Regions from separate parts of the Homo sapiens genome. Here regions 1, 2 and 3 are each linked to region 4. The links come from fine-mapping of genetic effects on gene expression. A gene starts in region 4. Each other region holds a variant in brackets. All regions are shown on one strand. Distances are from middle to middle.

Region 1 (5,147 bases), 70 kb after region 4:
TCCCCACCTTACCAGCCTATGCAGTAGACAGGGCCCAGTACATGGAGTCTGGAACCCACATATGCCCACTGCTACCACCCAGCGCAGTCCAACAGCATCCCCTGCTGGCACTGCCTGGCCCATCTCCTGCCTACTCCCTCCGGTCCACGTTCCAGCCTGCTCTTCTAAACCACACCTGCTGAACAACTGTTTTTTTTTCTTTTGAGACGGAGTCTCACTCTGTCACCCAGGCTGGAGTGTAGAGTGCAGTGGCGCGATCTTGGCTCACTGCAACCTCCACCTCCTGGGTTCAAGTGATTCTTGTGCCTCAGCCTCCTGAGTAGCTGGGACTACAGGCATGTACCAGCCACCACGTCCAGCTAATTTTTGTTTTGCTTTTTTTAAGTAGAGATGGGGTTTCACCATGTTGGCCAGGCTGTCATCTCCTGTCCCCGCGATCCACCCACCTTGGCCTCTTTAAGTGCTGGGATTACAGGCCTGAGCACCGCACCGGGCCTGAAAAGCCTTAAATGGCTTCCCAGTGCGTCAAGATCAAGCCCACCTTCCTCACCACAGCAAGCCTTTCCCATACTCGTATCCTGCCACTCCCTCCCCTCCCTGTAGACCCTCCAGGTCCTCACATGGGCTGTGGTCTCTTCTCAGGGCCTTCACACAGCTGTTTCCTCTGGTCTGAGTAGATGTCTACTTAATGCTTCAGGCCTGACTTTGACATTGATCACTCCCTCTGGGAGGCCTTCCAGGATTGACAGCACTGAACTGGGTCCCCATCTATGTGCTCCAATACCACTCTGTTTCACACATCACGCCTAGCACTAGCCACACTACAGCAGCCTGTTTGCTGACCCTATTCCCCAAGCGGACTGTGCGCAGCACCGCGAGAGCGGGAGCTGCTGCCCATCAGGGTAGTTCAAAATACAACACAGGCATGGCACAGAGTAGGTACCTCAACATTTGAGTACTGGACTAATGCTTCCAACACACCCTACCCCACATTACCAAAGAATTTATCTGTGGTTTTGTTTCCCCAAGGCCAGTATGATGGTTCATTTCCAAATTTGGTGAGGAAAGTTTCATAACAGCCTAAAAGGACAAAATCAGTAAATGGCTCAGTTTGACCATAGGCTGACACTAACCAAAATTAAAGTTAGAGAACAAGATGGGCAACAGCTGCAGGTGGAGGTTTAACCGCTAACAGATGACAGAAATGTGAAGGCATCTTCCAAGGACAGGAGACTGAAGTTACAGAGGCAGCTCCAGGAAGGCGAGTGGAGGAGGGCTAGGGCGGGAGGAAAGGGTGTGTGGGGGACGGCTTGAACTTTTTTTTTTTTTTTTTTTTGAAACCAAGTCTCGCTCTTTTGTCCAGGCTGGAGTGCAATGGTGCAGTCTCGGCTCACTGCAACCTCCGCCTCCCTGGTTCGAGCAATTCTCCTGCCTCAGCCTCCCAAATAGCAAGTAGCTGGGATTACGGGCATGTGCCACCACACCCAGCTAATTTTTGTACTTTTAGTAGAGATGGGGTTTTACCACGTTGGCCAGGCTAGTCTCAAACTCCTGATCTCAGGTGATCCGCCCACCTCGGCCTCCCAAAGTGCTGGCATTACAGGCATGAGCCACCGCGCCCTTGGCCGTCTTGAACTTTCAGACAGGTCTTTTAATAATTCCCTAGCGCCCTCACAGTTGAAAAAAGGTATTTTTTCCCCATTTTCTTTGGAATGAGCAGTATTAGAGAAAGAGGGGACAATTCGTCACCCACCTAAAAGTAGTTGAATATCAAAATATATCAATTTTATTTCTGCATCATAAATTTATAATTTTAACAACTTTGATCATTAGCTAATATAGTAATACAAAAAAATGAGAAAAAAGATGTTAATATTCCTCATTTCCATAAAGTGCAGATTTAATTTTCAATTATTTGCCTTAGTAAACATTGTCTTATTTCAGGTACTCCCTGCCCTCACTCAAAAAAAAGGGAGGGTGTTTAATTTTTATTGAACAAATATGTAATACCAAGAAAAAGATGAAAGACCCAATAATGTTTTTTGCAAACATGTTTCCAGGTAAGATTTCCAAGGACATC[A/G]GTACTGAGTGAAAAATAATCCTTTACAGTCAATATGAATGAATACACTAACAAGTACATCATTTAGATCTCCATGCTTATTTGGCAATTCCAGTTATGAAAAAGGTACATAAATAGTACAAACAATTGGCTTGACATGTGGCCAAACTACTTTCATCGAAGTTGCTGGAAGCCTTTCTCTGGTTTTGGCCCCTGTAGGAAGTTAATCTCATATTCCCTTAGCAATAATATAAGGTCACTGTTTCAGTCCTACACACTTTTATATTCAATGGGCTTCTTAGTTTATCACATAAGGACTGGCACTTTTTTCAAAAGAATATTGCTAACAGGGTTAAATGAGTGCTAATGGCTGAACGTTTGCCAAATGCTTACTTCTGCGATAGTATAAATATGGATTATTAAAGTTGTCTACTCAAGTATAAAATATATGCAAAACTCTCATAGGCAAAATGTTCAAAGGCCGGGAAAAACCTTTTTTTTTTTTTTTTTTTTTTAACTTTTACGAGAAAGTGCAACTGCAGGGTCTCTTGAATGATCTTCTAGACAGTTCCGCAGAAAATTAGCAGTTTGGCTCAGAAAGTAGAGTTCCTCAGGAGGAATTAAAGTTCTTCCTAGAAGAATACAAAGCAACGTTTCAGGCAGCTTTCTGAAAATAAACCATTAGCTTATGCCTACACAGCGAGACAAACTGGAACGTGTAATAATGAAGGCTTTCACATTTGTTGTGATGTGCTTTTTTTCTCTTACCCCAGGACCTCTAGCTGTTCTGTAATGTTACATAAAGTAGTTATAGCACTTCGTCCAGCACTGACAGCAGGCAGGAAGCTAATCAGCGAGGAGAAAATCGGAAGTGTGTTCATGTGTTTCATTGTTTTTCAGGTCAAATCTCAATACTTGCAAATAAATCATTAAAAAGATATAACAGTTTCTCTGTTATTTTCAGGACTTCATGTAGTGAGTGGGTAATCAGAGTGAAAGAGGGCTTTCTATCAGTCATCAGTGATACGTTCTGTCACACAGTCAGATTTTCAGCATTTGTTCGGCTGCTGCTAGATGATAAAGGAAGTTTTCTGTTGCTGGTGGAAATCGTTTTTGCTTTAGCGCCTCCAAATTAAGGACTCTCTTTTCTCCATCAGCCGAAACTTCTGAAAACGGTGCTAGGTTGGTAAAGATTTCTCTTGTTTTTAGAGCAATATCCTTTAATAGAACAGGAAAATATATGCAACATGTTAGTATCCGAAATTTGAATATTTAGTCTCTAGAATTCTTCCTATTTTTTCCAGACTGTTTATAAACTATGAAAAATGAGCTTGGCGTGGTGGCTCATGCCTGTAATCCCAGCACTTTGGGAGACCGTGGCAGGAGAATGTCTTGAGTCAGGAGTTAGAGAATGCAGTGAGCCATGATTGCACCACTGCACTCCAGCCTGGGCAACCCTGTCTCAAAAACGAACAACAAAAAAGATAACTCCTTTTTTTGTTGTTGTTTTCGAGACAGGGTCTCGCTCTGTTACCCAGGTTGCAGTGCAGTGGTTCAATCATGGCTCACTGCAGCCTCGACCTCCCAGGCTCAAGTGATCTACCCACCTCAGCCTCCTGAGTAGCTGGGACTACAGGCATGCGCCACCACACCCAGCTAATTTTTAAATACTTTTTGTAGAGATGGGGTTTCACCATGTTGCCCAGGCTGGTCTCAAACTCCTGGGCTCAAGCAATCTGCCCACCTTGGCTTCCCAAACTGCTGGGATTATAGATCTGAGCCACTGCATCTGGCCTGATAATTCTTTTTAAAGAAAAAATTAGGAAAAATGAAACAAAATTAACTTAGAAAAATCATAGTGTGTGGTTTTGGTTTTTTTTTTTTTTTTTTTTTTTTTACAATTTTAGTCATTTTCTGAGTGTATAATTCAGTGGCATTAAGTACATTTGCAGCGTTGCACAACCATCACCACTATTTCCAGCACGTTTCACCATCACAAACAGAAACTCTACCCATTACACAATAACCCCATTTCCCCTCGCTTAGCCCCTGGGAACCTCTATTCTGCCGTCTAACTCTGTGAATTTGTCTGCTCTAGATAGCTCATATAAGTGGAATCATACAACATTTACCCTTTAGTGTCTGGCTTATTTCATTAGCATGGTTTCAAGGTTCATCCATGCTATAGCATGTATCAGAATTCTATTCCTTTTCTCCCCCCCAACAAAAGCCACATTCAAAACATTCCATTCCTTTTTAAGCTGAGTAATATTCTACTGTATATAAAGACTACATTTTGCTTGCCCATTCATCTGCTGAAGGACACTGGGTTGCTTCTGCCACGTTTTGGCTACTGTGAGTAACACTGCTATGGATATTTCCATACGAGTACAGTCATGCACCACATAATGACGTTTTGGTCAACCAGGGACCACATTTACAATGGTAGTCCCATAAGATGATAATGCTATATTTTTACAGTATCGTTTCTTTTCTTTTTCTTTTTTTTTTTTTTTTTTTTTTTTGAGACAGTTTTGCTCTTGTTGCCCAGGCTGGAGTGCAATGGCACAATCTCGGCTCGCTGCAACCCCCGCCTCCCGGGTTGAAGCGATTCTCCTGCCTCGGCTTCCCAAGTCGCTGGGATTAACAGGCGCCCACCACCACACCCGGCTAATTTTTGTATTTTTAGTAGAGATGGGTTTCACCATGTTGGCCAGGCTGGTCTTGAACTCCTGACCTCAGGTGATCCGCCCGCCTCGGCCTCCCAAAGTGCTGGGATTACATGCATGAGCCACCGGGCCTGGCCGAGTCCCTGCTTTCAATTATTTTGGGTATATACCCAGAAACAGCATTGCTAAATCATATGGTAACTTGATGTTTAACTTTTTGAGAAATGCTGCTATTGTTTTTTTGAAGGAATCTCTTCCCAAAAGTCCTCTTCTGCCTGGGATAAGTAACCCGGCACCTGCCACGCAGGCTTTATTCCTTTTGGGTGGCTGAGGACTCACTAAAGCACTCATTAAAATCATGTCTTCTGGCCAGGCATGGTGGCTCACGCCTGTAATCTCAGCACTTTGGGAGGCCGAGG
Region 2 (5,147 bases), 71 kb before region 4:
ATAGCATCTAGCAATTCCAATTCTAGGTATAGTCCCAAGAGAAGTGAAAACAAGGACTGGAACAGGTACTTATACACCAATATATTTCCATGCTGAGACCCCTAAAATAACAATAAAAGAATAAAACAGGTATCAACTATCCTACAAAGGCTGAGAGATGGGAGGACGAATGACAGCTGACCAGAGCCATCAGAACCACCTATGGAGGATGGCAGAGGGATGGATGGGTGGGCGCTGGCCTTGCTGGCTGGAGAGCCGACATTCACGTTCCTGCAGGTATTAAAACCAACAAGAAAAACTCCATTTGTGAGCTTGAGGCAACAAGTGTGACAGTGCACAGGCTCAGAGAATTGATTCCGTGTGTGTTACGGCACTAACTTTTTGTCACCATGGCCTCAGGACACTCAGACAAAGCATGTTTGGGATAATCCATTACTAAGCATAATTTGTCCCTGGACCAATTTTTGTTAAGTTGCTTTCCCCCTTTCCTGCAGCTGTTCTGCACGGCCAGGGAGAAGCCTCCAGAGATAAGGGTACTAAGGCCTCCAACTCCCTGGGCACAGAGCAGGGGACTTCCTGATGCTTATAGGTATAGCCCCAATACCACAGTTCTCTTGTATTCAGGGCTCTTCCCATTCTGGCCCCAGTGCAATACTCTGGGCACTGGGTTTGTAGGGTTCCTGAGGCAGGAATTCAAGGATGAAAAGAGCCAGTGTAGCCAGGTTGTAGGCATCATGCGCCCTCCTCCTCCACCACCACCCCACCCTCCAGCATGTGCAAACCAGGCGATAACTTCTCCAGAGACACAACAGAGACTTCACACTTTCCCAAAGCTGCTCTACTTTTCACATGATCCCCTAGAGAATGGAGTAGGCTCCTCGAGGGAGAGCACTCACTAGAACACCAGGCAGTTACTGGCACGCACATCAGTGCTGCTGCGTGGCTCTTCTTGCCCTGCAGCGTGGCTCTTCTTGCCCTGCAGCGTTGGAGCTGGCCTCGGCCACAAAGTGCCAGAGGGCTGCAGGCCACCGCCACTCACTCCTTGAGAACCACGGCACGTTTTGAAGGACACACCATCAACAGGAATGAGGAGCCCTTGCTGCTGTCACTGGAGTCAAGTTGGTCTTAACCATCCACTCCCACCCCCCTAGTAGCACCGAGCCCTCCTCCTTCCATCTTCTTTCATCAGAAAACTGGATCTTCCCACTTTCTCTCCCCCAGGATGCTGAGCTGCACAAGGGGAAGAACTATCCAGCTCATCTTTCTATCATAAGCACTGCACTCAGGGCTCAGCACCTGTGATAAGCAGAATTGTATGCCCCCAAATTCCTGTGTTGAAGTTCTAACCCCCAGCACCTCAGAACATGACTGTATTTGGAGAAATTTGAGGATAAGGCCTTTAAAGAGGAGATCATGCAAAAATGAGGCCATTCATTAGGCTGGGCCCCAGCCCAGTGTGACTGATATCTTTATAAAAGAGGTCAGGGGCCAGGCGCAGTGGCTCACGCCTGTAATCCCAGCACTTTGGGAGGCCAAGGCGGGTGGATCACGAGGTCAGGAGATCGAGACCATCCTGGCTAACATGGTGAAACCCCGTCTCTACTAAAAAAAATACAAAAAATTAGCTTGGCATGGTGGCACACGCCTGTAATCCCAGCTACTCGGGAGACAGAGGTGGGAGAATTGCTTGAACCCAGGAGTGAGAGGTTGCAGTGAGCCAAGACTGCACCACTGCACTCCAGCCTGGGCAACAGAGCGAGACTCCGTCTTGAAGAAAAAAGAAGAGGTCAGGACACAGAAAGACACCGGGGTGCAGGTGCATACAGGAAGGACCATGTGGGCTCAGAGCAAGGGGGCGGCCATCTCCTAGCCAAGGAGGGAGGGCTCCAGGGACCCCAATCCTGCTGGCACCTAGGCCTTGAACTTCCAGCCTCCAGACTGGGAGAAAATAACGTCTCATTGTTAAAGCCCCCAGCAAATGAATACAGAACCTAGGAAGGGGCAATGAATGAGTGATAGGTGGAAGGGCTAAGAAGAAAAGAGGAGGGAGAGGAAAGAGACGTGCTCAGATCTGTCTCTTCTGGACATCCGATCCCAGGCTGTCTCTTCAGTGGGCCCAAGTCCAACTAGCAGTCAGCTCAGAAATGATCCCTGAGGCATCGAAGCTTTCACAAGGAGGCCACAAAAGTCGGCTGCCTCTTTAAGACCTCCCTGTGGGACACAGC[G/A]ACATTGGATAAGGGACTCGCCACACAGCTTGCCAGCCCTACAGAGAGTCAACGCATCTGCCATGGCTTCCCGAAGGCAGTTATGGAGAGAAAGAACTTGAGTGTTCCCCTTCTGCTTGTCCAGCACCCCAAGCAGAGGGGCGGCCTGCAGTGAGGTGCCAAGGCCAAGCTAGCCCTGAGAGAACAGGTGGAGACGGGCACATAGGAGCCATCGCTCAGGGCCATTAGACCGTCTCGGGAAGGGAGAGGCCACAGGAGAATTGGGGAAGCTTATCTAAAAACAACGATTCCTTGTCCCAAAGAATAACCACTTTGGAAAACAGGTTGTCAATTTCTGGAAAAGTTAAACCTATACCTACCATATGATCCAGATGTTCCTAAGTATTTACTCAAGAGAAAAGGAAATCTCTGTCCATAGAGAGACTAGAAACAACCCACCTGCGCAAACAGTTGAGTGGGTAAACAAACTGTGGTCTATCGATACAGTGGGTCACTACTCAATAAGAAAAAGGAATGAACTACTGATACGCCAACAGTGTAGATGAATCTCAAAATCTTCATGCTGAGTAAGTAAAGGCACATGAGAAAGGGTACTTGCTATATGATTCCATCTATAGACAAATCCAGAAAATACAAGCAAATCCAGAAAATACAAGCGAATCCAGAGCGACAGAAAGCAAGAACAGTGGCTGCTTAGGGTTCAGGGGACAGGAAGGGATGACAGGGCAGGATTATAAAGGGGCATGAGTAAACTTTCAGCAGTGATGGATAACTTGTTTGTGGTATGTAGATTCACACGGGTATGGATATATCCTAACTTCTCAAATCATATTCTTTAAATATGTGTGGCTTACTGTCTGTCAATTACACTCAATAAAGTGGTTTTGAAAGAGTACGGATTCCTGGGTCCCAGCCTGGAGAGTCAAGGTCTGTTGTGGCAGGGGTGTCGCAGAGAGCAGAAGAGGGGGAGAGGGGTGTAGCCTCCACTGGCACCCTGGAGCAGGTACAGAATGCATGCAGAGATCATGCCTCAACATCAACAATTATTCCTCCTGGGAAACTACAGACATCGTTATTTTTATTTTGACATCAGGAAACCCCTTCGCGTCCTCCACAACTAGTTTGGAGAGCCACTGGGAAGCAAGAAGTTCACGCAGTCAGCCAGGTGTTGGGTGCCTCCACCCAGCATGGTGGTCTGTGGGCTCTCTTGGGGGTCTGGCCGAAATGATCAAGGTGTCGGCACCCGACACACAAGGTGCGGCAGCACCCAGCAAGAGAATCCCAATCAGCCAACCTTCTGGATCCATGACCCACTGATGCTGCACTTGAAGACATGGAGGTTAAAGATTTGTTCACCAAATTAGGCTAAAACGTGGTCACATGATTCAGAGGTTTGGCCAAGGCATCGGATTTTCCCAAATCACAAAGGCAATGCATGGATATAGGGATATATTAACTTCATGTGCCAATATAAATTGGTACAGAAGTGATGTGTAACGTAATAATAATTGATCATGGTACGACCCTTGTGAACTGCAGGAAGCTATTCCTCTTTCACACAAGAGCCCTAGAGGAGAAGTTAAGACTTGAGTTCAGGTCCCGCTGTGGCAGGACTCCCAAAAGTCCATCCCCGCTTTGACTTTGACAGTTGAATTCCAACTTCTTGGAGTTTTCTACCTTACCCTCCCAGCTGTGTTGCTAAAATGTCAAAGGCAGCTTCAAGAAAACCAAAAACACTCTCTGATTTCACTTTTAAAACGTCAGTGTGGCAATTCCTAAGGGATCTAGAACTAGAAATACCATTTGACCCAGCCATCCCATTACTGGGTATATACCCAAAAGACTATAAATCATGCTGCTATAAAGACACATGCACACGTATGTTTATTGCGGCACTATTCACAATAGCAAAGACTTGGAACCAACCCAAATGTCCAACAATGATAGACTGGATTAAGAAAATGTGGCACATATACACCATGGAACACTATGCAGCCATAAAAAATGATGAGTTCATGTCCTTTGTAGGGACATGGATGAAATTGGAAATCATCATTCTCAGTAAACTATAGCAAGGACAAAAAACCAAACACCACGTGTTCTCATTCATAGGTGGGAATTGAACAATGAGAACACATAGACACAGGAAGGGGACTGTTGTGGGGTGGGAGGAGGGGGGAGGGATAGCATTAGGAGATATATCTAATGCTAAATGACGAGTTAATGGGTGCAGCACACCAGCATGGCACATGTATACATATGTAACTAACCTGCACATTGTGCACATGTACCCTAAAACTTAAAGTGTAATAAAAAAAAGAAAAACTCACCATTTACAACAGAGTCTGAGCTGCATGCCTTTACAATCAAAACCCAGCGTATCCCAGCTCTGAGGTATGAAACTTTAATCTGGCAAACAGAGGAGGAAGGACACTGAGACCTCCTTCAAACCCAAATGAGGGGGATTCTCAAAACCTCCTGAGGAGCTAGCACAGCTATGGAAAATCGGGTCACTGTCTGTGTTTGCAGTATTGCTTAGCGAGACGGTCCCCAAACTCCTGCGGCCCTCCCTTTCCTCACTGATGTTGAATTCGGAACACTAAGCGCATAACACTCATTTTTACACATGCTCAGCCCTCCCCTTCCTCCAAACGCTGCATTTTTCTTCCAATGAGTAATTTCTGAATGCCTTCCAAACGCACCCATCTAATTTTTTGGAGTCTCATTGGGGTCATCAGTCAGAAACAGCAGCAGCCAAAAGCACAGTATGTCATGACTTTAAAACCATTACTCTGTGTGTGTGTGTGTGTGTGTGTGTGTGTGTGTGCGAGAGAGAGAGAGAGAGAGAGAGAGCGTGCACACGCACAAGCATGCCTTAGAGAATTCAGACTGGACCCCAGTTCCAAAAATCATCATTTATCA
Region 3 (5,147 bases), 28 kb before region 4:
TGGCCAACATGATGAAACCCCATTTCTACTAAAAATACAAAACTTAGCTGGGAATGGTGGCACATGCCTGTAATCCCAGCTACTCAAGTGGCTGAGACACGAGAATCACTTGAACCTGGGAGTCGGAGATTGCAGTAAGCCAAGATCGCGCGGCTGCATTCCAACCTGAGTGACAGAGTGAGACTCCGTCTCAAAAAAAAAAAAAAAAAAGGTAAGGCAAATACACTACAGAAGACAGGCCCTGAAACCAGAGGCTGGTCAGGTGATATAAATGAGTAAAGGGGACTTGATATGAGACAAGAGGAACTATTGTGGCCTGTGGTAAAAGGAAGAGACTGGAATCTTGCCACAAAAGAGACAATCAATATTTAACTGCACTTTGGGAGGCCAAAGTGGGTGGATCACCTGAGGTCAGGAGTTCGAGACCAGCCTGGATAACATGGCAAAACCCCAGCTCTACTAAAAATACAAAAATTAGTCAGGTGCAGTGGCGTGTGCCCAGCTACTTGTGAGGCTGAGGCAGGAGAATTGCTTGAACCTGGGAGGCAGAGGTTGCAGTAAGCCAAGATCATGCCACTGTACTCCAGCCTGAGCAACAGAGCAAGACTCCGTCTCAAAAAAAAGAAAAAAATTAACTGCAGACAAATGCTGCTACACAAAAATTCTTACCTAATGTCGCCAAAACTTTGAATTATCTAAAAGAAGTCTTAAATCAGAAAGGTTACGTGAAATTTCCCGATTTTTAAAATAGTGTGTAGGGGCCAGGCGCAGTGGCTCACGCCTGTAATCCCAGCACTTTGGGAGGCCAAGGCGGGCGGATCACGAGATCGGGAGATCGAGACCATCCTGGCTAACACAGTGAAACCCCATCTCTACTAAAAACACAAAAAATTAGCCAGGTGAGGTGCGGGCGCCTGTAGTCCCAGCTACTCGGGAGGCTGAGGCAGGAGAATGGCGTGAACCCGGGAGGCGGAGCTTGCAGTGAGCCGAGATCGCGCCACTGCACTCCAGCCTGGGAGAGACAGCGAGACTCCGTCTCAAAAAAAAGAAAAAAAAAATAGTGTGTAGGTCAGTTTGCAACCTCTGGGCTAGACAATAAGAACTCCTGACCTCAGGTGATCAGCCTGCCTCGGCCTCCCAAAGTGCTGAGATTACAGGACAATAAGGAGCCCACTGCAACCTGGGCCCTGGCACTATTTGGCACCGTTAATATCTGCACAAGAGAACACAGTCCAGCAGCAGCAGCCACGGTCTAAGGGATGGGGGACAGCCAGGCATGGGAATGGGTATATGGCCCAAGAGAGGCTCCACCCAGGGGTTCGGGCCCCTGAACCATCTGGAACTTGGCTGTAAACCTCCATTAGCCTTTGGTTACCTGCCAGCCCCTCAGGAATCTCCTGGGGCAGAATCCAGGTGCTCCTAAAGTCACCATTTACACAAAGTACTTATTGAGCACCTATTGTCTACAGACATACACAAAAAGAGCAATAAAAAGACACAGGCCCTGTTCCCATGAAACTGATGGGCTGTCAGTCCCCAAGTCCACCTTATTTCTCAAGTAAATCCTAAATATAACACATTTTCAAAAAGGAAAAAAAAACTGTCAGAAATTACTCAAACAGATGTCCCTGTACCTTCACGTTCAAATGATTCATGCTTTTTGTTATTGAGCCAATTCATGAGCTTCATGGAGTCTGAACAACCCGAGTGTGCCTTGTAAGGGGCCCTCAATGAAAAAACAACTGGTCCCAGACTCCCACTCTGCAGCACTTGGGACACAGCCAGCCAGCCCACAAACAGCAGTGCATTTGCTTTTCTCTTCACCGAGGAACTCATTTACATAGACTTGATGGTGTGATTTTGTTTCTAAACCTGGCTCTTTTGCTTTAACATTTTCCAATTACTTACATGCTAGTGAGTTCCAGGATATGGTTTTCCAGGGATAATAGGCAAATCAAGTTGCTATTATTCTCTGTCCACCTTGTTCCCCCTCCTGATTTGTTTCCCTAGTATAAATCTACACATGAAGAACATCACCACTGATGAAAGCCAGATTTAGAAATTACACTTATCCCAGCCTGGGCAACATGGTGAAACCGTCTCTACAAAAATAAAAAAAATAAAAAAAAATTAGCCAGTCCTGGTGGTGTGCACCTCTAGTCCCAGCTACTCAGAAGGCTGAGGTGGGAGGATCACCCAAGCCTGGGAAGGCAGAGGTTGCAGTGAGCTGAGATGGTGTCACTGCACTCCAGCCTGGGCAACAGAGTGAGACTCCATCTCAAAAAAATTAATTAATTAGGCCGGGCGTGGTAGCTCATGTCTGTAATCTCAGCACTTTGGGAGGCCGAGGCAGGCTGATCACCTGAGGTCAGGAGTTCGAGACCAGCCTGGCTAACATGGTGAAATGCTGTCTCTACTAAAAATACAAGGCGTGCACCTATAATCCCAGGTATTCGGGAGGCTGAGGCAGGACAATCACTTGAACCCAGGAGGCAGAGGTTGCAGTGAGCCGAGATCGTGCCACTGCACTCCAGCCTGGGTGACAGAGCAAGACTCTGTCTCAAAAAATAATAAGAAAAGAAAAGAAGAAAGAAAAGAAAAGAAAAAAGGGGAGGGAGAAAAGAAAAGAATAGAAAAGAAAAGGAGGGGAGGGGAAGGAGAAAAGAAAAGAAAAAATTACAGTTATCACCCATTCTTGGCTTCCAAATTAAATTTAAGACACATTATCATTTCAAATCCACCTGAAAAAAGTAACCCCCAAATGTACTTTTGCCTCCTACTGACGGTGGAACTTGGGCAAGATTCCTAAGTCTTCTGTGCCTCAGCTTCCTCGTTTATAAGATGGAATTAACCAGTTGTACTTGCCTCATAGGTTTGTGGCAGAATTGAAATAAGACATGTAGAGTAAGAATGAACTACTTTTAGTAATATTTTTTGTCAACACCAACGTGAGGAACGTGGTGGTTAAAAAAGCACAGACTCAACGGGCTGGGTTCAAACCCTGGCTCTTCCATCAACAACTGTGACCTTGGGAAAGTTTAGGAACCTCCCTGAGCTTCTGTTTTCTCATCTGTGGAATTAAGATAAAAATAATATTTACCTCCGAGGGAGGCTGTAAGGAGG[T/C]TCTGACATGCATAAGCAGTGTATTAGGTTTACAGCTATTTTGGTGATGATGAAACCAAGGCTAATGGGAGGTGGCACCCAGCCCTAGAGCAGCTGGCTATATCATACGTTCACAGATATGCCCAGGCCCCCACAAGGAAATAGATGGGGGATCAAACCAACATGTGTGTGGACAGAATCCACTTCCGGACTCACACAGCTATTGTTCCTAACACCTTGGGTTCACATTTCCATGGTGACTGGGATGTTTGTTTCCTAATCTTTCTTTGCTACAGTTGGAGTCTCACAAGGGCAGCCAGGTTAAGGATTGTATTCTTTGTGGCAAATATCAAATACACCTGGCCCTCTGCTCAAGCAAAGCCTGGGACAAAGGTGCACATCCAGCCTTCCTTGACTCAGGGGGCTGGCTCCTCCTGACCCAGGCCCCATGTCTCTGGCCTGCTGTCTTGGGTTCTTTAAGGCAGGTATCCCCTAAGGATGTGACTTTTAACCCTGAATGAGTCAGGATCCTTTGACTGTAAGTGGCAAGTCACACGTTCACCCAAACAGGAAACCAGGGGGGTACATCTGGCCCCCAGAATGGCTGGACACCAAAATGAAACAATGCAATGAGGACTCTCTCTCTCTCCCCCACCCCATCAGCCTTTGATTCAACATCGTGCTATGCCGCCTTTATTCTCAGATAGGCTGTGGCAACGGCCACCAAGAGCTCCAAGTTTCCCTCCACCAGCTTGGCAACCCCAGCAGCAGAAGAGCAGCCCTTTTGGAACCAAGAATCCCATCCCCATCCCTGAGGCCAAGCAGAGAATCAAGGCTCTGCACAGCCAGGGCTGAGTCATGTGCTCACTGATGGAACCAATGAGACATCATCTCCACCCAACCTTGTGGATTAAATACAGGGAGGAGTGGTCCCCCAAGAAAAATGGAGGTGCTGTTGCCAGAAGAAGAGGGGGTAGATGTGGGCCAGAAAAACAACAGACACCGTCTGCTCCCACATTTCTTCAAAGCTACTGCCAGGTGCTTGCCTCTGGCATGGAGGAGCCCTTCACCCTCCAAGACTTCACACTGGCCATTTGGCCACTGAGGGAGGCCCAGACCAAGCTGACACCTTTCCCCAGAGCCAGCCACATCTCCTGACTGCCCTGCAGCATCACCTGGGTGCAAATATTATAGTTTTTTATCTTTTAGCTGACACATAACTACGTATTTATGGGGTACATGGTGATGTTGCAATTCATATGATGTACAGTGATCAGATCAGGGTAATTAGCATATCTGTCATCTCAAATGTTTATCATTTATTTGTGCTAGTGTATTAGTCTCTTTTCACACTGCTGATAAAGACATACCCAGGACTGGGCAATTTACAAAAGAAAGAGGTTTCATTGGACTTTCAGTTTCACATGGCTGGGGAAGCCTCATAATCATGGTGGGAGACAAGTAGGAGCAAGTCACGTCTTACATGGATGGCAGCAGGCAAAGAGAGCTTGTGCAGGGAAACTCCCCTTTATAATAACCATCAGATCTTGTGAGACTTACTATCACGAGAACAGCATGGAAAAGACCTGCCCCCCATGATTCAATTACCTCCCACGGGCCCCTCCCACAACACGTGGGAATTCAAGATGAGATGTGGGTGGGAACACAGCCAAACCATATCAGTTAGGAACATTCAATATCCTCCTTCTAGCTATTTGAAACTACATATTAGTGTTAACTACAGTCATTCTACAGATATAGAACACTAGGAGTTTCTTCCTCCTATCTAGCTATAATTTTGTGTTGTTAAACAAACCTTTCTCTATCCCCTTCCCCCTACCCTTCCCAGCCTCTAGTATTATCTGTTCTACTTTTTACTTCTATGAATCAACTTTTTTTTAGCTTCCACGTATAAGTGAGAACACATAGCATTTAACTTTCTGTGCCTGGTTTATTTCACTTAGCATAATGCCCTCCAGTTCCATCCATGTTGCTGCGAATGGCAAGACTTCATTCTTCAGGGCCGAATAGATTCCCGTTGTGTA
Region 4 (5,147 bases):
CTTCCTCCCTTTCAGGACCATTCCCCAACCCAGAGGAGAGCCTACCAGCACCCACCTAGATCCTGTCCACTAAAAATGTCAGGTTAGGAAAAAAAAAAAAAAAAAAAAAAAAAAACCACACACACACACACAGCTCAGGCCTTAGAACCTGAAGTCACCAAGTAACAAGCCTCTCCTAAAAATTTATTCCCACCAAAGCTAAGCAATGGGAGGGAGACTAACCTGAATATTTTAAACTCTGCTGGGGTTTTCAAAGCACTGCCTCCCTTCGGGGCTTCTGAAATAAACCTTCTTGCCCACTGGCTGCTTTAGAGTGACAAGTGACGACGAAAGTAAGACACGAATGCCGGGTTGAGTTGCTGAAACGCTGCCCACGGAAGGCTATGCATCACCTACCCCCACAGTGTGTAGGGAGCCACAAGGTGATGGAACGGGCTGAATAAACACGAATCGTTTTATTGCTGGCCAGAAATTCTTCCCTTCATTCATCAAAGTAGGTGAATGAAAATATTAAGCAGGTAAGACATTTTCATGGGCTGCTCACCGAGTATCCTTCTAAACTCAAGCCCTTACTCAGTCTGCCTTCTACCTTGTATCAAATAAAGCGTTCTCCCGTGAAAGGGAAAAACCTCTTCCCCTTTTATGAAAAAGGTCGCACACTAGAGCTCAAATCTTGACCAGAAAAAAAAAAGGAAAATATGCGACATAAATTCCAGGTATTCCTAAATACATATGTTTACATGGACACAACACAATCATTTCAGGAAGCACCCAAGTTTCTGCCTCCCCCCCCTTTTTTCTGTTTTTCATCAAAAGGAAGAGTCAAAATATGCGTTCTTAGGGTTTGACTCAGGATCTTACACACTCCATTTAGACAATATTTCCTGCCAGCTAAATGCAGGAAATCTAATGATTTGCATAGAAAACGTATCTAAAGCACCAGCACACTTACCTTTCTTTTCTTAACTGAGCCAAAATCTAACAATTTCAGTTATCACACTCCCAGAAAAGAAAAACCTGAAATACTGAATTATTTTCTAGGTGGTCTGTACAGCCATCCTTTGATAATTCTATGAAAAGGCTAATTCCTCAACATCTGACTTTGCCTTTAAAAGGCTTCCTTCCACACGACGGGATTTCCCTAAGAAACATCCCAGCGGATGGTTTCCAGCAATAGTCTATATCAACTCAGCCTGCGCAGGCAAAGACTTGGCTTCTGCTCATTCCACCCCCGCCCCTCGAACACACACACCAGTTCACACAGAACCATCCCGGGCCGACTTGAAACGCTATTTTATGTGCATGTTTGCTCGTCGCTCCCCGAATGAATGCTTTTCCAACTGACCTTTCAACAGCTGCCGAGATGGCACGCTCTGCAGGGCGAGCGCTGGAAACTAGGAGATATGTTAGCATCCAAATCCCTGCAACCTTCTCAGCCCAAGTCCAGATTCTCTGAGCCCCAAGGCAGGAACCCTGAAGGGTCTGCAGAGCCGCTCTCCGAAGTGTCCTGCTCGCGACCCACTCGCCGGCAGCGGGCATCCTGCACGGGCGCAGCCCCAGCCCGCACGCCACCCGACACCCGCACCCTGGCCCGCGGCGGACGCGCCGGGCACGTACCGGCCCTGCCTCTTACCTTCCCTGGCTTTCAGCAAGACCGTGTTGGCCACGATGTTTTCCAGCTCCATTGACAGTCGGCGGTCAGCAACGGAGCCGGCCGGCGGGGCTGTCAGCGCCTGGGGTGCTGCCGCTGCTGCTGCCGCTGCTCGGGCTGCCGCCGCTGCTGCCGGAGCCGGGGGAGCCAGCAGCCCGCCTTGCCTACCGCATTATTCCTGCTCTCAGCCCAAGAGTTTCCCCCTCTGCAAAGAGGAGCCGCCGCCGCCGCCGCCGCCGCCGCCGCTTCTTCCTCCCTCTGTGTCCCCCCTCCCCCCTCCCTCAACACGCTCCCCCCCACCCCCCACCCTCCGCGTGTCTCTGTCACTCCATTCTCCTCCCCTCCGGCTCCCTCGGATGCTTTAATGCCTCGGATGCTTCTGCCTCCCCTCAGTCCCTCCCGGGGGTGTGGTACTAGCAGGCTCGGGCGGCCGCACTGCGCAAGCGCCGGCCCAGGCGCGCCTCCTGCCTCGGTGCTCGCGGCGCGGGGCCTGCTGGGAGCTGGAGTCCTCCCGGCCGCGCGGCGCCGGGGCTGAGCTGGGCTGGCGCGCGGCTGTCGGAGCGAGGACCCGCCCCGGGACGGCACCGAAAGCGAAGGCGGGCACCGCCCGGCCGACAGGCGACTCAAAGGCGGCCCAGCCAAGCCGAAGTCCCCAGCACCCCCCCGCAGGCTCCCGCTTGCCCCCTTCCCGCCCCGTCGCCAGCCCGGAAAGCGGAGTGCACGGGCCCCGGTGACGGCGCGTGAAGCGCCGCGGCCCGGCAGGAGCCAGTGCGGGTCCCGAGCCGTGCTCGGAGTGGGAGGGCTGCCAGCTCGGCCGCGCGCCACAGCCCGCTTCCTCCGGTCCGCGCCAGGCCCGCGAGGGTCTGAGTCCCGGGTCAGTGACGCGCGCCCAGGGTCCCCGCACGCGGCGGCGGCCGGCCCGGCCTGGCCCCTGCCCAGCGTCTCCCACGCGGCGCCTCGGGCCGCGGACAAAGATGCACTTTGTTTCCTCGGAGGGCGCGAAGGGCTCTGCGGGTCGGCTGCGACCCGGCGCTGGCTGCCCGCGCTGCTCTCGGTGCGACCCGAGCGCCCCCCGCCGGCCGCGGTGCGCGGCGCGGGGTCTACGCGGACGGCGCCTGGGGCTCAGGGTCCAGCGTGGGAAGCTGCTTATTCTGTGAATAAACTGCCTTCCAGCACACCCGGCCAGCAAATCCACGAGCCTCCCTGCAGCCAAACCCAGCCAGATTAAGTAATAAAAACGCAGACGGAGTCGCCGGAGTCTCCGCCGTGGGGAGCGTTAATGAGTAACAGCCAGGCCAGCGCCAAGCCGGCGTGGGATTAACGTTTTTAAATTCCGGTCTTATTTATTTTGGGGCTCTTAGCTCCTTCCAGTGTTATGCTCAGAACATCAGACTCCAGGTCTGTGCTCAGCCCCGTTTCCTTGCTCCCTCCGCTCCGAAGGCCCCACTCCTGGAAATGGGCTGTCTTCGGTCACCCGGGATCTGCCACGAGTGTCCTACAGCTGGGGGCGGGGCAGGCAGGCCCCAAAGAACAATGAGGCCTTTGCCTCCTCTGCATCCTGCGGGCCGGATATCCGTTCAGAAGCCGACTCTGGGCCTTCTCTGTCCAGAAGGAGGAAACCCTCTGTCCCCAGGGCTGCCAGGAAGTCGCAGGGAGGTGCCGAGAGAAACAGAGAACAGTTATTATGCATTGGAGAATATAAAGAAATCAATAAACCTTCCAGGCCTTGGAAACTGGTCTGGTCACTGATTGTAACAACCCAAGATTACCTGCTTTCCTGGGGGAGTATACCCACCACCACCACTTCCTGGTGTCTAGACTTGGGTCAGTGAGTCTCCCAGGGCCTCATTTATCTTGTCTGCAAAATGGGGGCAACAACAGTTTACCTGTCAGAAGGCGGAGGGCTCAGCGGGTAACTTTTCAGGCACTTACCACTCCAGGAATTACTGTTCTAAGCAATCCAGGCTTGGTCTTTGCTACATATTCACGTGCCTAGAGCCCTAACCTTTAATGAAAGGATCTCTCTCAGACAGCGAGACCCCTAAAGCTGGCAGCTCCTAGAGCCCTCCACCAACCACGCTGGTCACTTGCTGGCAGCATAGGGCCTGATGAAGCCCGAAGTTTGTTTATTCGGCTAACATAAAAAAAAAAAGAAAGAAAATTTTTGAATGCCTTTAGATGGCTTATGCACCTTAACAATTTTCTTGGGCCGGGCGCGGTGGCTTACGCCTGTAATCCCAGCACTTTGGGAGGCCGAGGCGGGAGGATCACGAGGTCAGGAGATCGAGACCATCCTGGCTAACAGTGAAACCCTGTCTCTACTAAAAATACAAAAAAAAAATAGCCGGGCGTGGTGTTGGGCTCCTGTAGTCCCAGCTATTCAGGAGGCTGAGGCAGGAGAATGGCGTGAACCCGGGAGACGGAGGTTGCAATGAGCCGAGATCGCGCCACTGCACTCCAGCCTGGGCGACAGAGCGAGACTCCGAACCAAAAAAAAAAAAAAAAAAAAAAAACAATTTTCTCAAAGGTTGTTTTTGTTTGTTTTTTTGTTTTGTTTTGTTTTGAGACAGTTACTCTGTCACCCAGGCTGGAGTGCAGTGGCCCAATCTCGGCTCACTGCAACCTCGGCCTCCCAGGTTCAAATGATTCTTGTACTTCAGCCTCCCAAGTAGCTGGGATTACAGGTGTGTGCCACCATGACTGGCTAATTTTTGTATTTTGAGTAGAGACGGGGTTTCGCCATAATGGCCAGGCTGGTCTTGAACTCCTGGACTCAAGTGATCCAACCCGCCTCTGCCTCCCAAAGTGCTGGAATTACAGGCATAAGCCACCATGCCTGGCTCAAAGTTTCATGAGCATACAAATCACGGGGGATCTTGTTAAAATGCAGATTGCATTTGGATAGATCTGGGGTGGTTTCTGAGATGTTGCTCTTTCTAACAAACTCCAGGGCTCTGTCGATCCTCGTGGTCAGTAGACCACACTCAGAGTTGAAAAGCTTTCTAGTTTACCGTAACTCCCTATTGTCTTATACCCAGCCCAAGTCACTAGTGATTTTATTTATCTGGCCTGTATAGACATTTAAGTTTTCCATCCTGGGAACCCCTGCCTCTCCCTCTCATTTTACAGATGTGAAACAGACCCAAAGTAAGTGAGTTGGCATGGTCACTCAGCAAGTTAGTGTTAGACTATTTTTTTGTCCACTACAAGCTGTTGCATCCTGCCTACACAAATACATGGTTGTACATCAGGTTTTTGTGCCTCTATGAGGAAATTCAGACACTCCAATGCAAGAATGGAACAATAATGGCTAGCATTTACTCAACACCAACTGTGGGCCAGGCTCTTGTGGTCTTTTAAATGGATTATCTCCTTGAACACAATATCCAGATGAGGTAGGGAACACAGGCCTATTTTATAGATAAAGCACCAGGTTAAGAAAGGTTTTATAGGCCGGGCACGGTGGCTCACGCCTGTAATCCCAACACTTTGGGAG

Evidence for each region. PIP is the estimated chance that this variant, and not a neighbour inherited with it, causes the effect. A credible set is the group of variants that fine-mapping cannot tell apart.
Region 1: its variant is the best candidate, but not a certain one, in a credible set for the expression of GRK5 in whole blood (TOPMed, PIP 0.67).
Region 2: its variant is the best candidate, but not a certain one, in a credible set for the expression of GRK5 in whole blood (INTERVAL, PIP 0.69).
Region 3: its variant is the best candidate, but not a certain one, in a credible set for the expression of GRK5 in nasal epithelium (TOPMed, PIP 0.78).

The regions. Positions count from the first base shown.
Region 1 is chr10:119,134,601-119,139,747 of GRCh38, reverse strand. It overlaps DENND10 (DENN domain containing 10), which reads right to left. Exons shown (of 9, transcript NM_207009.4): 9 at 1,764-3,277. The coding sequence ends at 3,101. Among named protein-coding and RNA genes, the nearest start is that of SFXN4, 29 kb to the left of the region's middle. The variant A/G (reference allele first, on the strand shown) is at 2,081.
Region 2 is chr10:119,275,519-119,280,665 of GRCh38, reverse strand. All of the region lies in intron 1 of GRK5 (G protein-coupled receptor kinase 5), which reads right to left. Among named protein-coding and RNA genes, the nearest start is that of GRK5-AS1, 61 kb to the left of the region's middle. The variant G/A (reference allele first, on the strand shown) is at 2,226.
Region 3 is chr10:119,232,126-119,237,272 of GRCh38, reverse strand. All of the region lies in intron 1 of GRK5 (G protein-coupled receptor kinase 5), which reads right to left. Among named protein-coding and RNA genes, the nearest start is that of GRK5-IT1, 26 kb to the right of the region's middle. RefSeq lists enhancers at 1,640-1,699, 4,662-4,956. The variant T/C (reference allele first, on the strand shown) is at 3,124.
Region 4 is chr10:119,204,456-119,209,602 of GRCh38, reverse strand. GRK5 (G protein-coupled receptor kinase 5) reads right to left here and starts at 2,032. Exons shown (of 16, transcript NM_005308.3): 1 at 1,634-2,032. The coding sequence starts at 1,685. It overlaps GRK5-IT1 (GRK5 intronic transcript 1), which reads right to left and starts at 1,182. Exons shown (of 2, transcript NR_186528.1): 1 at 953-1,182. RefSeq lists silencers at 1,606-1,655, 1,706-1,775, 1,986-2,815 and enhancers at 3,156-3,265, 3,286-3,335, 3,446-3,525.